Linked DNA regions of Homo sapiens. The protein of the gene in region 1 purifies or fractionates together with the protein of each later gene. This does not show direct contact. Each region holds a gene or a part of one and is shown in the gene's direction. Other genes may lie near its edges.

Region 1 (4,588 bases):
TTGGCCAGGTTTGAATCCTTAGCGCCCTACTGACTCAATACAGCCTCGGTTTCCTTATCTGTAAATCAGGAGAATAATTTGTACATGAGTCTGGCACGTAGGGAACATCATCATTGTTTGGATCTAGGGTCAGATGCTTTTAAATAGTCATGAGAAGCCCCTGATGTTTGCTTATGCAATCATTCATTCATTCATTTTGAGATCCCATGGAAAGCACTGTGCAAATCTTTGAATCAATGAATCAGTGAGTGAGTTAGTGAACCAGCAAGCTGAGCCCCAGCCATCGCTAGCCAAGCCCCTGCCTCCAGACAGAATGAGCAGGACACATTTGGGAAGCAGCAAGTCATCAGTGTGTTCAGTCCTTCAAGTATTTATTGAGCACATACTATGTATCAGATGCTGTGCTAGATGCAGGGGAGCAGGACCGACCAGGCCTCCACCCTCATGGAACTCATTGCCTGATGGCGGAGACAGGCCACTGACAAGGAAACAACCCAAAAAGCAAGGTCTTCCTAGGTGGGGTGAACGCGGTCAAGGAAATTAGCAGGGGACAGGATCAGAGGTCGCTTTGGATGGACTGGCCTGAAATGTCTCCCAAAGGAGGAGCTGGGAGGAGAGAGCCAGGCTGTTGAGAGAGCTGGCAAAAAGCCCTGACCCGAGCATGTGATGTGACAAGAACAGAAATGGGCCTGTCCTGAAGGAGCAGAGTGTAGGGAAAAGGACTCAGAAGGACAACCAGGGCCCAGATTACGCAGGGCCATGGAAAGGCCAAGCCCTAGGGCACTGGGAGCCCTTGGAGGGCTTGGGAGAGTGGGTCCCCAGTGGGTGGGCTAGAAGTCCTTGACTCAAGAAGAGACCCCTGTGTGCCTGGAGGAGTGAGGGAATGTGGCACCTGGATGGGTGTGGGGTAGAGGGAGTATTCCAAGCAGGCCTCGAATCTCTCAGACAGGAAAAGCCAAAGGGTGACCCAGACATGTCAGCCTCATAAAGACTTCCAGATAAGCACATGCCTCTCCAGGAGAAACCCACTGTGTCTCTTCCTGTGTTCAGGTTTCCCAACCTCTTTCCCCCACTGAAGCCGGAGACGGTGGCCCGGAGGACAGTGGAAGCTGTGCAGCTCAACCAGGCCCTCCTCCTCCTCCCATGGACAATGCATGCCCTCGTTATCTTGAAAAGGTATGGGGCTGGGAAAGAACACTCTGGGTCAGGGGAAAGTACGCATGTGATCTATTAGTCATGTCTGCTGCGGGCATGAGCATGAGGAGTGCTGGCACATTTGCTGCTGATGTACTGTACTTACTGTGGGGCAGCAGTTCTCAAACTTGTTAGTCACGGGGCCCCTTAGAGTTTTAAAAAGTATGGAGGAACCCAAAGAGCTTTTGTTAATGTGAGTTGTAGCTATCGCTATTTACTATATTAGAAATTAAAAGCCAGGGCCAGGCGCAGTGGCTCACGCCTGTAATCCTAGCACTTTGGGAGGCCGAGGCAGGTGGATCACGAGGTCAAGAGATTGAGACCATCCTGGCTAAAATGGCGAAACCTTGTCTCTACTAAAAATACAAAAAGAAAGTAGCTGGGCATGGTGGTGGGCGCCTGTAGTCTTAGCTACTCGGGAGGCTGAGGCAGGAGAATGGTGTGAACCCAGGAGGTGGAGCTTGCAGTGAGCCGAGATCGTGCCACTGCACTCCAGCCTGGGTGACTCAGCAAGACTCCATCTCAAAAAAGAAATTAAAAGCCAGAAAAATGTTGTAAGTTGTATACATTTGTTTATAATATTTATTCATTTATAAATAGCTATAACAAACCCATTACATTAATATAAATATATTTTTATGACAACTAGTTATGTATTCTAAAACAAAATAAATGTAGTCAGGAGTGGCATTGTTCTACCTTTTTGCAAATCTCTTTGTTTGGCTTAATTGAAGACAATTGGATTCTTATATGTGCATCTGATTTCAATTTGTTGTGATATCTCGTGTCACGTAGCCTCTGGAAAATTCTACCATTCACTGAGAGAATGAAAGTGAAAAGACAAATAACATCTTAGTATTATTACAGAAACAATGTGGCCGGGCACGGTGGCTCACGCCTGTAATCCCAGCACTTTGGGAGGCCGAGGTGGGTGGATCACCTGAGGTTGGGAGTTCGAGACCAGCCTGACCAACATGGAGAAACCCTGTCTGTACTAAAAATACAAAAAAAATTAGCTGGGTGTGGTGGCGTGTGCCTGTAATCCCAGCTACCTGGGAGGCTGAGGCAGGAAAATTGCCGGAACCCAGGAGGCAGAGGTTGAGGTGAGCCGAGATCGCACCACCGCACTCCAGCCTGGGCAACAAGAACAAGACTCCGTCTCAAAAAAAAAAAAAAAAAAAAATTGACCTCACAGACCCCTGAAGAGATCCCGGGTACCCCAAAGGTTCCTGGACCTCACTTTGAGAACCACTGTTCTACAGCCTATTGGACATAGCCCCTGCCCTCAGGAAGTTTACTATTAGAGGGAACATGGGGATCTTGATGCCAAGGGCTCAGAATTCACAGAAGCGTCTTAGTACCAGTCGGGTGGGATGTAGCAGGGCAGACCACTTTGGGGAGGCAGGCTTTATAAATGAGAGACTCCTCCTCCAGAATTTGCCTGGCATCCTATTCCCCTAGAACTTTCCAGGCTTTGTGCAGCAAATCCTTCCCATCCCAGTCCCACACTCAGTTTTCTTGGGCCTCTTAGTACAGCAGGAGATCCTTGTCCCTGGTGCCACAAGTGACCATGGGCTCTTGGCTCCCCTGGGGCTCTGGCCCCCTCCTGACTGAGCCCCTCTGACCTGGAAGTCCTTTTCAGGAAGGTAAGCCCCCAAGTGCCAGGCTGGCCCCTGCTCTCATGCAACATGCACTCCCAGGAAAGCCAACTTCTGCCCTGGCTGCTGGGACATGGTGAGCCCCAGCTGAGGGGCTGCCCCAACACATGCAGGGCACAGAAACCTCGAAACTGAGGCGCAAGCCCGATCAGCCCTCTCTTCCCCAAACTCAAAGCCCTTTCAGAGGCACAGGGAAGGGGGCACCCAGGGGCATCCAGGCCACACCTCGGCCTCCCTCAGTCCATCCTGACCTCGGGTCTGAGATGCTCCTCAGCCGTCTCTAGGAGCCCCTAGTTGATCAGGGGCTCAGGTCCTCACTGAGGTCAGGCTGCCACCCTCCACCTCAGGGGAGCTTCTTAGAAGACTTCCAGAGCTTTCTAGAGAAAAGTTGGTCTAGAACACCTCAGCGCTCTCCACAGTAAGCCCTCAGCCTTCATTTTCCAACCTTCCCCACAACTACTTTTGAACAGGAAGCAGGAGCCACCCCGCTCCCCATTCTCTGAACTGCATCCCTCCTCACCTTCCCCAGGAGAAAGCAAGGCTCAACTCTAATACCACCACCCCCAGGAAGCCTTCCAGATTGCTCCAGCTGGAAGTGAACCCTTTTCATCTTGTACTTAGAGTGGGCCAGGACCCTTCAGTTTGAGTCACCAAACAGCCTGAGGGCCCTCTCTGTGCCGGGCCCATGTGAGGGCCTGGGGATCAGAGATGAAATACCCGCCATGAAGGCCCCCACAGGCTTGACAAGTAAACGGGTGGGGACTACACCAGGGCTTGCTGGGGAAGCGTCGGAACTCCGGTTGTACGAGGAGAAGCCTGAAGGTGAGCCCAGGACGCTTCCCCAGAGGATGTGACACCCAAATCGAACCTGATTCCTCAGATCCACACCGTCATCTTTGTGGAATCAGGGGCAGTTGGGATCGATGGATCTCTGAGCTGCCTGTGGGCACCAAGATGCTAAGAGCCTGGTTTTGAAAGTGTGTTGTATGAAGGGAGAGAAGGTCAGCACTCCCCTCGACAAGGAGCACAGACAGATTAAGCCATTGTCACCTACTTAGTGGCACCTAACCATCATTTGTTTTTAATGGGTACAAAAAATAGACCGAATAAGAACAAGTCTTTGATAGCACAGCAGGGTGACTATAGTTAATAATAATTTAATTGTACGATTAAAAATAACTAAAAGGGCCGGGCGCAGTGGCTCACGCCTATAATCCCAGCACTTTGGAAGGCCGAGGCAGGCAGATCACCTGAGGTCAGGAGTTCAAGACCAGCCTGGCCAACATGGCGAAACCCTGTCTCTACTAAAAATACAGAAATTAGGCGGGCATGGTGGCGCATGCCTGTAATTCCAGCTTCTCAGGAGGCTCAGGCAGGAAAATCACTTGAACCCAGGAAGCAGAGGTTGCAGTGACCCCAGATCGCACCACTGCACTCCAGCCTGGGCAACAGAGTGAGACTCTGTCTCAAAAAAATATAATAAACATAAAAATAAATAAAAAAACTAAAAGAGTATAGTTGGATTGTTTGTAACACAACAGATAAATGCTTGAGGTGATGGATACCCCATTTATGCTGATGTGATTATTATACATTTGCATGCCTGTATCAAAGTATTTCATGTACCCCATAAATATATATACCTACTATGTACCCACAAAAATTAAAAATAAAAAAATGAGCTCTGTTTCAGGATCTAGGAAAAAGATAAAAATTTTAAATTAAAAAAAAAGTTT
Region 2 (3,500 bases), on another chromosome or scaffold:
GCTGGCACTATCTCCCCTCCATGTCCTCCTCGTCCAACAACCAACATTACAGCCCCACCCTCTCTGGTTACCACAACTCTGGATCTTCACATGCCCTTACTTTGAGGCTCCAAGTACTTGCACTCACTGCTTTGCTTCACAACTCTTACAAATAGACCGTAAATCAATCTGTGTGATCCATGAAATAAATCAACTAAGAGTAGCAATATTTTTTTCTTTAAATGCATGTAGTGCTGGCCTGTGCTTAGGTGTGTGTGCTCAAAAATTAATTTTACCTTCATTTGGATTTCTTTTCTTCCGTCTGAAGTATCCACATAATAATATTTCACAAAGATAAATCATGATTGGAGGTATAGGGAGGGTGAATGGTAAGTAGTCCCTCAAATGACTGTTAAAGGAATGTTAGTACCAGATGAATTGGATTTTTCTTAGGTTTAAATAGACTGAAGGGACTTGGGTTCTGAAGTAGTCCTATTGTGCCCAGCATGGAACAAATTGCAACCACTGTTTTCCATGAAAACACTCTTGCCAGACGCTAAGTAGTGTATTTTCTCTGACTGAATTGGCATGTCCTTGAGAACAGCAGAAAGACTAAATAATTTGTAAGTGAAGTTTGTCTTCAACTGGTAAGGTTCAGTAGTATTTGTCAATTGCCATACCCTCACTTGATATCTTGCTTACTGCTCCCAATCTCTTTGGCATTGAGTTTTTCTATTATTTTCTCCTCCTGTCAGACCCAGGTAGAGTTTTTCTGATTAAGTAATACCAGTTCATGTTAGTGTTTAGTGGGTGAGGCTATGGAAGGAGAACTTTAAGAAAAAGTGTGTTTCTTCAAACTTTCTAAAAAGTACTTATAGACAAAACAGGTATTTTAAGCTATGTCTGGCACATCTTAGATTCTCAATAAATATTTGTTGAAGTAATAAATGTAGGAAGGGAAGGAGCATCATGATGGGTCATTAGGGGAGATGTTCTGGGACAGACGACCATTTCTGATTACTTATTCAGCGTGGGCTTTGTGTAAATGCAAGCTCAGCTCTATTGGTCCCCCTCACAAGGTGGATGTAGTCAAAGTTCAATTCCCTCTCCTGTCTGCTTAGATCAGAGAGACACACTTGCAGTCATTTCATTCAGGTTTAGCACGGGAATGTGATCTTCCAGATTTCCTATCCTTAATTATTTACAGATCTTATTTTCTTAGATGTTGTTTGTTTAATGTCCTGTTTCATGTCTTTGTAGTGGAATAAATCCTTTCCCTGGGTTCTAGACCTGGTTCTGCCAATTGCTTGTCATGTGATGTTGGGTAAGTAATTTAACCTTTCTGAGCCTAGTATATTCATCTGTGTAGTGGGTACATAAAAAGAACCTCCAAATCCTGTCTTACCTTTTCTTCTTAAAATTAGGTTGGTGTGAGTCTCAAATAAAGAGATAACAATAAAAGTGTTTTGCAAACAATGTGTTTTTGAAATGTAAGTATTATTAATTAAGGAATTTCATAGATCGAGCACTAAAGTATTCATGGCTCTAAGCAAACAAGAAGTACTCTTGCTCTCTGTATAGAATACACACATTCCCCATTTCCACCTGATTCCCATACTCTACAGAGTAAATTTTTTGTTTGTTTGTTTTTTGAGATGGAGTCTTGCTGCCATCCAGACTGGAGTGCAGTGGTGTGATCTCGACTCACTGCAACCTCCGCCTCCCAGGTTCAAGCAATTCTCCTGTCTCAGCCTCTCAAGTAGCTGGGACTACAGTTGCATGCCACCACGCCTGGCTCACTTTTGAATTTTTAGTAGAGACAAGGTTTCACCATGTTGCCCAGGCTGGTCTTGAACTGCTGAGCTCAAGTGATCCACCCACCTCGGCCTCTCAAAGTGTTGGGATTACAGGCATGAGCCGGGCACGGCTCAGAGTAAATATTAACCATGCTAATGGATGGGAACATAGTATCTGTTTATTATTTCCTTTGAAAACTTCAGTGACAGAATTTAGATAAGCCAATATTCAAAGTGTTACAAGACCCAAGGATCACTTCAAATGCATTAGAAATACCCACTGTTTTTCTTTTTATCTTTTTCTGTTTTAGTCTTTTCCTCACATTTAGATCTCTTTTCTTCTCCATTTGCTAAGTTTGCTGCCTCCCCCTCTATACCCACCCCCACTTCACCTCCAAACTGGGTTCTCAGCACTAAGATGGCCAGGCATGCTGTGCTCACATCCATCACATGAGGGCCCAGTCAGGCAGAAGAGTGGAGAGAAAATGCAGGGCTGGTTGGGAGACTGAAAATGTAGATACAGTTTGGTTGGGGGAAGCACATTTCAAAGATGATCCCTTGATCACCATTTCCACAACCTGACTTCAGGGCTCCTCAATACAACAGGAATAAACCTTGATTAGAGAGGTGATATGTAATCCTAAACCTTTCCAAACTCAACTCTAAATGCCATAATCTTTTGAGCCCTCAAGATCTCCACAAAGGACATTATAGTTCTTCTGTGTCCCTGGGCATGACTGGGATAAATTACCACTTTAAAACAACAAAATTTAACAGATTCTCCTATAAGCACAGAATTCTACAAACCAAAGAAACTGAGTTTTTAAACATATGGATAACATTTAGAAATACTTTAAAGTATAATAACTGGATCAAGTTAGTCTAAGAAATCCTATTTTTCCTAGAAGCCAAAAGTTTAGCATAAAAAAATTAGTATTGTACATATTTTCCCAAAATACTTTTATACAAAGGGCTCATGTAGACTGCAATAGAAAGGTGTGTTAACTAGAAATTTGAAAATAAACTGGTGTCCAGAAGGAAATAATGATTTCTTTAATTATATTTATATTTGGTTAATGGTATCACCTTTAAACTTTCACTCTAGCTACATCCCTTTCTCCCTGTTTCTTTCTTCTTCTGCCTCAGAACACACTACTTCTATTATATATGCGTTTTTTGATTGGGAACAAGTATCCAAAACCAACTTTAAGAGTCTATAAAAGGAATTTATTGGAAAAAGAAAAAAAGCAGCGATCATATGAAATTAGTAAGTTGAACAACGAAGCCTATGGGAACCAGGGTAGAATTTCAATAACAGGAATTCATAAACTCTTTCTGGGGCCCTGCATCAAAAAAGACTCAGTTATTAATAATCCCAGCTACAATTCAAATTTTAAATGATGAGAGAGAAAGAGAGAGATAAGAGAGAGACAGACAAAGGGAGAGAGGGACAGAGGGAGAGAGACAGAGAGAGAGAGAATGAGGATGAATGAATTTTATTGGTCCTGCTTGGGTCACCTAGCAACTGCCACAGGGCCGATATCTCTGACTGGAAAAAGGGCTGGGTGACATAGGTTAGAGACAATTTTGGTAAGCCCACACTTGTAAATCTAGTGAGAGGGTAAGTTGGTTGAGAATTAGTCTCCTGCATATATACCTATATGTCCACATAGTCCACATGTGGGTTAGCTACCCGAGTCAGAAGGAACTTATCTCAAGTGTGGT

Evidence for each region. The genes of interacting proteins can lie anywhere in the genome.
Region 2: the proteins of DHRS3 (region 1) and GAP43 purify together in Homo sapiens (affinity purification with mass spectrometry; one large-scale study listed by BioGRID and IntAct). This does not show direct contact.

Annotation. Positions count from the first base shown.
Region 1 is NC_000001.11:12,569,316-12,573,903, reverse strand, and holds part of DHRS3 (short-chain dehydrogenase/reductase 3), read left to right. Parts: intron 1-1,050; coding exon 1,051-1,176; intron 1,177-4,588. UniProt on the Homo sapiens protein: Catalyzes the reduction of all-trans-retinal to all-trans-retinol in the presence of NADPH.
Region 2 is NC_000003.12:115,630,010-115,633,509, forward strand, and holds part of GAP43 (neuromodulin), read left to right. Parts: intron 1-3,500. UniProt on the Homo sapiens protein: This protein is associated with nerve growth. It is a major component of the motile 'growth cones' that form the tips of elongating axons. Plays a role in axonal and dendritic filopodia induction.